Linked DNA regions of Homo sapiens. The protein of the gene in region 1 interacts with the protein of each later gene in a biochemical or structural test. Each region holds a gene or a part of one and is shown in the gene's direction. Other genes may lie near its edges. The genes, in order: FCHO1 and EPS15L1.

Region 1 (3,907 bases):
TTGTCCCAGGAACCTGCCCACACACCCAGGGAAGACAGTCGTTGCCATCAGGGTTGGTTTTGAGGTCTGAGTCAAGGCCTGGGGGCAGGGCGGGGGGCGGTTGGCAGGGTGAGATGGAAGGTTCGATAGTGGGGCGCCTGACTCACTGCTGCCCCCTGACTCCCCTAGACATGTCCAGAGGTGGATGAAGAAGGTTTCACTGTCCGGCCTGATGTGACCCAGAACAATATCCTTCTGGCACCCCCTGGGGGCAGTTGTTGGCACAGCAAGGACAAAATTCTCCGTAATAACCAGTCCACCTTCAGCAGTCCTCTCTGTGTACATCCTGGAGAGAGTCTCCTTTGTGGATGAAGCCAACCTAAATGTAAACACCCACTCTATGGGGTCAGCACTGGGCAAGAGGGAGAGAGAAAAGGAGATCTAGCAGGGCTTCCTGGAGGAGGGGGCACCAGTGTTGGGGTTTTGCAGCCGAATAGGAGTTTGCCAGTTAGTTCTGGGCATGCTTGTGCAAAGGCTTCTCGGGGGGGGTGGGAGTGCTGGTGGGACATGGTGTCAGGACTGAAGGTGGCGCGTGGTGAGCGATGGGATTGGGCAGGACCTCGAAGGGTTTGAGCAGGGAGGGACGAGGCTGGATTGGAGAGCTGACTGGGGGAAAGCTTGTGTTGGGATTGGCTTGGACCTTGACTGCAGCCCACGCACGGCCGAGCCCTCCCGTTTCTCGTCCAGCGACTCCGACTTCGACGATGAAGAGCCCCGCAAGTTCTATGTGCACATCAAGCCTGCCCCGGCCCGGGCTCCAGCCTGCAGCCCCGAGGCAGCAGCGGCACAGCTCAGGGCCACCGCGGGCAGCCTCATCCTTCCTCCTGGCCCAGGGGTGAGGCGTGGGAGGGGTGCCCTGGGTGTTGCTAGAGAGGCTGGCTGGATGCATTCGTGTGTGATGTTGCCCACTTTGTCCACAGGGCACCATGAAACGCCATTCTTCACGTGAGTAGCCTTTGGTCTTCAGAGTGGGGAGGATCCTAAGGAAGGGAGGCTATGGGTTTGGGCTTGAATCATAACTCCGTTTTGTAACTTTGGGCAGGCTGCTTAACCACACTGACCTTCAGTCTCCTTTTCTGTAAAATGAGGTCATTATGAAATTAAGTGAGAGCTGAAAGGGGTAGCTGGGGCCAGGAGAAGCTAGCATCTGGAGACAGGCTCGCTTAGGCTTGAATCCATGTCTGCCTGATTTGCTGATCACCTTGGGCAACTGGCTGGACACCCCCGAGCCTCGGTCCCTTGGTCTGTGGAGTGGGGAGCATTGCAGGCAGGGTGACAAGAAGGCTGAAGGAGGTGCATCTCTTGTAGGGGACGCTGCTGGGAAACCCCAGAGACCTCGGTCTGCCCCCAGAACCAGCAGGTGGGTTCCACACGAGTGGGCAGGTGGGGGCTGTCCCCACCTCCTCCCTCCACCTCCCCATGTCTCCGCCTGGTGTTCTCTTGTCCCGGCTGGGAGTTGACGTCATGCTGGGGTTTTTTTGTTTTTGTTTTTGTTTTGAGACAGAGTCTCACTCTGTCACCCAGGCTGGAGTGCGATTTCAGCTCACTGCAACCTCCACCTCCTGAGTTCAAGCGATTTTCATGCCTCAGCCTCCTAAGTAGCTGAGATTACAGGCACCCACCACCACGCCCAGCTAACTTTTGTATTTTTAGTAGAGACAGGGTTTCACCATGTTGGCCCGGCTGGTCTCGAACTCCTGACCTCAAGTGATCTGCCCACCTCGGCTTGCCAAAGTGCTGGGATTACAGGCATGAGCCCTTGTGCCTGGCCCATGCTGGCTTTTGAGGGACCATTTAGTCATTCATTTGATGAACATTTATTGAGTGCCTGCTGTGTACCTGTGCTGTTCTAGGGTCTGGGTTCTGAGACAGGTCTCCCTTCTCAGAGTCACATTCTAGTGACTCCAGATTTTAAGAATAGCAAATAGGGCCAGGCGTGGCGGCTCACGCCTGTAATTCCAGCACTTTGGGAGGCCAAGGCAGGCGGATCACCTGAGGTCGAGAGTTCGAGACCAGCCTGACCAACATAAAGAAACCCCATCTCTACTAAAAATACAGCATTAGCCAGGCATGGTGGCACATGCCTGTAATCCCAGCTATTCGAGAGGGTGAGGCAGGAGAATCGCTTGAACCTGGGAGGCGGAGCTTGCAGTAAGCCACTGTTGTGCCATTGCATTCCAGCCTGGGCAGCAAGAGGAAACTCCGTCTCAAAAAAAAAAAAAAAAAAAAAAAAAAAGCAAATAAGTTAGAGCATATTCGATACTTCTAAGTGCTACGAAGAAACTAAAGCAGATGACGCGAAGACAGGAGGAGGTGACTTCCCTTGAGGTGGGGTTGGGAACCTCCCTGAGGGGGTGACTTGGAGCTAAGCCCCAAAGAGGAGCTAGGAGGTGACTGTGAAGAGAGCTGGGGAAATGGAACTCCAGACTGGGAACAGGCTGCACACAGTGGCTCACACCTGCAATCCCAGCACTGGCCAAAGCAGCCAGATCACTTGAGGTCAGGAGTTTGGGATCAGGCTGGCCAGCATGGTAAAACCCCGTCTCTGCTAAAAATACAAAAATTAGCCGGGCATGGTGGCAGGTGCCTGTAATCCCAGCTACTCTGGAGGCTGAGGCAGGAGAATCGCTTGAACGCAGGAAGCGGAGGTTGCAGCAAGCTGAGATCGTGCCACTGCACTGCAGCCTGGCCGACAGAGCAAGACTCCGTCTCAAAAAAAAAAAAGACTGGGAACAGCATGTGCAAAGGCCCCAGGGTGGGATGAGGCTTGGGAAAAATAGAAGCAGCCCTCTTGGCCTCACCCTCTCTAGCTGTGCAGAGAGATTGCAGTCAGAGGAGCAGGTGTCCAAGAACCTCTTTGGGCCGCCCCTGGAGTCAGCCTTTGACCACGAAGATTTTACAGGTGATGGGGATAAGGGATTGGAGGGCATGGGTGTGGCCGGAGGGAGGTTGGGTGGGGCCATTGCAGAGTTAGGCCAATGAGGTCCCCTGGAAGCCAGGCTGGAGGGAGGACTAGTCCGTGTAGGGGTGGGCGGGGCCAGAGTGCGCGTGGGAGGGGCCATAGATAGGGTGGGGCCTTGGCCAGTGGGCGGTGACTGAGTGGATGGGCCGGACATTTGTGGAGAGGGAAGTCACCAGAAGGTGTAGCCTTGGGGGCGTGCACAAGGACTTTGAATGGGGGCCCCCCTGACCTTCCCTCGACGTGGCCGTGGCCTGCAGGAGGATGGGCAGGGACTCTGAGTGGGCGAGGGTCGGAGCTGACCGCCCGCTTCCCTCCCCAAGGCTCTAGCAGCCTGGGCTTCACCTCCAGCCCCTCCCCTTTCTCCTCCTCGTCGCCCGAAAACGTGGAGGATTCCGGCCTGGACTCTCCGTCCCACGCGGCACCTGGCCCCTCCCCAGATTCCTGGGTCCCCCGCCCAGGCACCCCGCAGAGCCCGCCCAGCTGTAGGGCGCCACCCCCAGAGGCCAGGGGTATCCGGGCACCGCCTCTGCCAGACTCGCCGCAGCCCCTCGCCTCGTCTCCAGGCCCCTGGGGGCTGGAGGCCTTGGCCGGAGGAGGTGAGTCCAGCGGGCCTGGGCCTGAGAGTTGCTGGAACCCTGGGCGGGGGATTGAGCGCCTGCTTTGGGCAGGGCCTGATCAGGCTGCTGGAGACACAGCCAGGACCAGGCAGGCAGAACCTCCCACCGTTGCAGGGACAACAATGAGATGGACATTTAGCAAGGCAGGCGGTAGCGGGTGCCAGGTGGGGGCCCTCCCTGAGGAAGGGACATCTGAGCTGAGATTTGAGGGAGGTGAGGACAGAACCACGTGGACATGAGGGGAAAGGCGTGCTGGGCAGAGGGCACAGCCCCTGCAAAGGTCCTGGGG
Region 2 (3,907 bases), 1.3 Mb from region 1:
TTAATCCCACGCCACTGTGGAAGTCATCTTTTTGATTTTTGAGACAGGGTCTCGCTCTGTCCCCCAGGCTGGAGTGCAGTGGTAGGATCATAGCTCACTGCAACCTCAAACTCCTGGGCTCAAGCAATTCTCCCACCTTGGCCTCTCAAGTAGCTGGGACTACAGGAGCGCAGCACCAATCATACCCAGCTAATTAAACAATTTTTTTTTTGAAGAGATGAAGTCTTGCTATGCTGCCTAGGCAGGTCTTAAACCCCTAGCCTCAAGCAATCCTTCTATCTCAGCCTCCTAAAGTATTGGAATTACGGTGTCAGCCACTGCATCTGGCTAGGATTCATCTTCTAAAACATATTCCCCTGTTCCAAAAACCTTTCACAGCTCCCATTCCCCTTCCTCCAAAAGAACTCAGTTTATGGCTGGGCGCTGTGGCTCATGCCTATAATCCCAGCACTTTAGGAGGCTGAGGTGGATGGATTGCTTGAGGCCAGGAGCTCGAGACCAGCCTGGCCAACATAGCAAAACCCTGTCTGTACTAAAAATACAAAAGTTAGCCAGGCATAGTGGCAAACGCCTATAATCCCAGCAACTTGGGAGGCTGAGGCACAAGAATCGCTTGAAACCAGGCGGCGGAGGTTGCAGTGAGCTGAGATCGCGCCACTGCACCCCAGCCTGGGCAACAGGGTGAGACTCAGTCTCAAAAAAAGTCAGCTTTGATGACCTTAGTAAGCCCTGAATCGACTCCACCTAACCTTGCTGGGTCCCTTTCCTGCACTTCTGGCTCTTGGCAACACTTTCTAGCCTCAGCATCCTTAGCTGTGTTGCTCCGGTTGCTAGAACATCACTGTGAGCTCCTGCCGTATGCTGCCTGCCCTGAAGGACGGTCTTTGAGGCCTCCCCTGTGTTGTCCTCCCTTAGCCCCACCCGAATGAGAGTTCTCTCCCTTGTACCTTCCGTGGGTCCCTTTTGTGACCGCTGTACCTAGGAAGCGCGTGGTAACTGGGCTCAGTGATGAGGAGAGACTGCCCTGGGCCCAAAGAGCTACACCTTCCTCCTTTCCCCCTTGTTATGTGTTCTTCATCCAGGAGCTTTTGCTGTATTTCAGTAGGTGCCTCCATTCTAGGAGGCTTTTATTCCCCTTTTACAAGTGAGGAAACCAAGACCCACAGAAATAGAGTAACTTGCTGAAGTCTCATAGTTGGTGGGCGCAGAGCTGAGGTCACACCTGCGTCCTCCTGCCGCAGAGCCCTGCTGTTCCAGATGGCCTGCTGGGCACCTCTCCCAGAGCAGCACCCGGCCAGTGTGTCTGGAATGAATGCTGAGTGGCTCGGACACTTACTTGTCCTCTTGTCCCTTGTTTCTTTTCTTCCTCTGAAATAAGTGCTAGTCTATCTTAGTAGAATGCTAATGGCAATGCAGTCTAAATTGATGAGAACGAAGTTTTAGAGTAAAATCCACTCCTGAAAGATCCAGAATTCCCTGACTGTCACTTATTGACCTGCACTGGCCTGTTTTTTTTTTGTTTTTGTTGTTGTTGTTGTTTTTTCGACTAAATAGATTCTCCCTGGGCAAGACCCCTCCACCTCCATTCTGAACTTTAAAACAACTTTCCAGGCCGGGTGCAGTGGCTGACGCCTGTAATCCTAGCACTTTGGGAGGCTGAGGCAGGTGGATCACCTGAGGTCAGGAGTTTGAGACCAGCCTGGCCAACATGGTGAAACCTCATCTCTACTAAAAATACAAAACATTAGCCTGGCGTCCTGGCGGACGCCTGTAATCCCGGCCACTCGGGACCCTGAGGCAGGAGAATCACTTGAACCCAGGAGGCGGAGGTTGCAGTGAGCCAAGATCACTCCACTGCACACTCCAGCCTGGGCAACAAAGTGACACTACGTCTCAAAAAAAAAAAAAAGAAAAGAAAAGCAGGCACCATCAGGTGCAGTGGTGCCTGCTTTTCAATGTTTAGGTCCTTAGATGTTTGTTTGGATTCCCAGATATTCCTTCACTGCCCTCAGTCCTGCAAATACTTTCTGTACCTTAGTTTTCTCATCTGCAGAATGGTACTGTGGACTCGCTTGACCTGCTTTGTCACAGTAGAGTGTCAGGACCCTGCCGTGTGACGCATGTGCTCTCAGTGCTTTCCTTTTTTTTTTTTTTTTGAGACAGAGTTTCACTCTTGTCACCCAGGATGGAGTGCAATGGCGCTGTCTTGGCTCACTGCAACCTCTGCCTCCTGGATTCAAGCGATTCTCCTGTCTCAGCCTCCTGAGTAGCTGGGATTACAGGCGCCCACTACCACACCCAGCTAATTTTTGTATTTTTAGTAGAGATGGAGTTTCACTATGTTGCCTAGGCTGGTCTCGAACTCCTGACCTCAAGTGATCTGTCTGCCTCAGCCTCCCAAAGTGCTGGGATTACAGGCAGGAGGCACCGCGCCTGGCCCTCATGCCTGCCTTTTGTAGATCACACTGTTCGTTCAGTGAGTATTTATTTGGCATCTTCTTTTTGCTGGACACTTTCTGGGCAGTGGATGGAACAGTGAATCTGAAGGCAGTGCCGCCTCACGGGGCTGACATCGTTGGGAGGGGCCCAGATATAAAGAAATGAGCCCAATGTGTAGTGCATTCGGTGGGGATTGATGCTGTGAGATGAGTAGAGCAGGGCAGGTTCCGATCTGATGATGGAGGTCAGGAAAGGTCTCACCACCAGGCTGGAAGGACTGAGTAAAGAAAACATCATAGATTGCCTGGTTCATCCTCCCGGTCACTCTGGCCAGTATTATCTTCAGTGTATAGGGGCAAGAGGGGCAGATCACTGGAGGCCAGGAAGGGCAGATCACTGGAGGTCGAGAGTTCAAGACCAGCCTGGCCAACATGCTGAAACCCTGTCTCTACTAAAATACAAAAATTAGCCAGGCGTGGTGGCACATGCCTGTAGTCCCAGCTCCTCAGGAGGCTGAGGCAGGAGAATTGCTTGGACCTGAGAGGTGGAGGTTGCAGTGAGCCGAGATTGCACCACTGTACTCCAGCCTGGGTGACAGAGCAAGACTCTGTCTCAAAAAAAAAAAAAAAAAAAATAGATAAAGTGAGGCCAGAGATTGTTACGTCCCTTGCCCAAGTTTGTACCCAGTGAGCTCAGGCAGACATGGCTTTTCTGACACAGGTTCAGGCCTCTTCATTGCACCATAGTTTCTTGTCTTGGAAAGTTATTTTTTTGTTTGTTTGTTTTTAAGTTTATGACATCTCCTAACCTCATTTGTTTTTATACCTAGTTATTAGATATCATGTAGTCTGAGTTTTTATTTTATTACTTTAATCTCATCTCATTAAAAGGTAGAGAGGGACATGGAAAGGCCTGCTTATTGTCTTCCTTTTTCCTTTAGAGACAGGCTCTTGCTCTATTGCCTACGCTGGAGTACAGTGGTGCAATCAAAGCTCATTGCAGCCTCGACTCTTGGCCTCAAGTGAGCCTCCCACCTCAGCCTCTCAAGGAACTGAGACTACAGGCATGCAACACCACACCTGGCTAATTTTTAATTTTTTTGTAGAGACAGGATCTTGCTATGTTGCCCAGGCTGGTTTCGAACTCCTGACCTCAAGTGATCCTCCTGCCTCTGCCTCCAAAGCGCTGAGATTACAGGTGTGAGCCACCACTCCCAGCCAGTTGTCTTTAGGAGAATCCAAAGGTTTCCCTGCCAGAGTGGTAATCAGTGCTCCTGGCCCATGCAGAATTGAGTTGTCCAGGCCCGGCCCACAGCAGAGGCTCAGGTCACGGGTGGTCCAAGCTGCAGGAGGGGCAGATGACTGGCTTCCATTTGGGTGTTGGACATGGTTGTATGGAGGAGAGGGCGTGTTTGGTGTAGGCCAAGCTTGTCCAACCCATGGCTGCATGTGGCCCAGGATGGCTTTGA

The links.
Region 2: the proteins of FCHO1 (region 1) and EPS15L1 form a complex in vitro, tested with the Homo sapiens proteins (one study listed by BioGRID).

The regions. Positions count from the first base shown.
Region 1 is NC_000019.10:17,775,288-17,779,194, forward strand, and holds part of FCHO1 (F-BAR domain only protein 1), read left to right. Parts: intron 1-168; coding exon 169-226; intron 227-695; coding exon 696-874; intron 875-959; coding exon 960-984; intron 985-1,347; coding exon 1,348-1,399; intron 1,400-2,849; coding exon 2,850-2,941; intron 2,942-3,321; coding exon 3,322-3,597; intron 3,598-3,907. UniProt on the Homo sapiens protein: Functions in an early step of clathrin-mediated endocytosis. Has both a membrane binding/bending activity and the ability to recruit proteins essential to the formation of functional clathrin-coated pits.
Region 2 is NC_000019.10:16,465,153-16,469,059, reverse strand, and holds part of EPS15L1 (epidermal growth factor receptor substrate 15-like 1), read left to right. Parts: intron 1-3,907.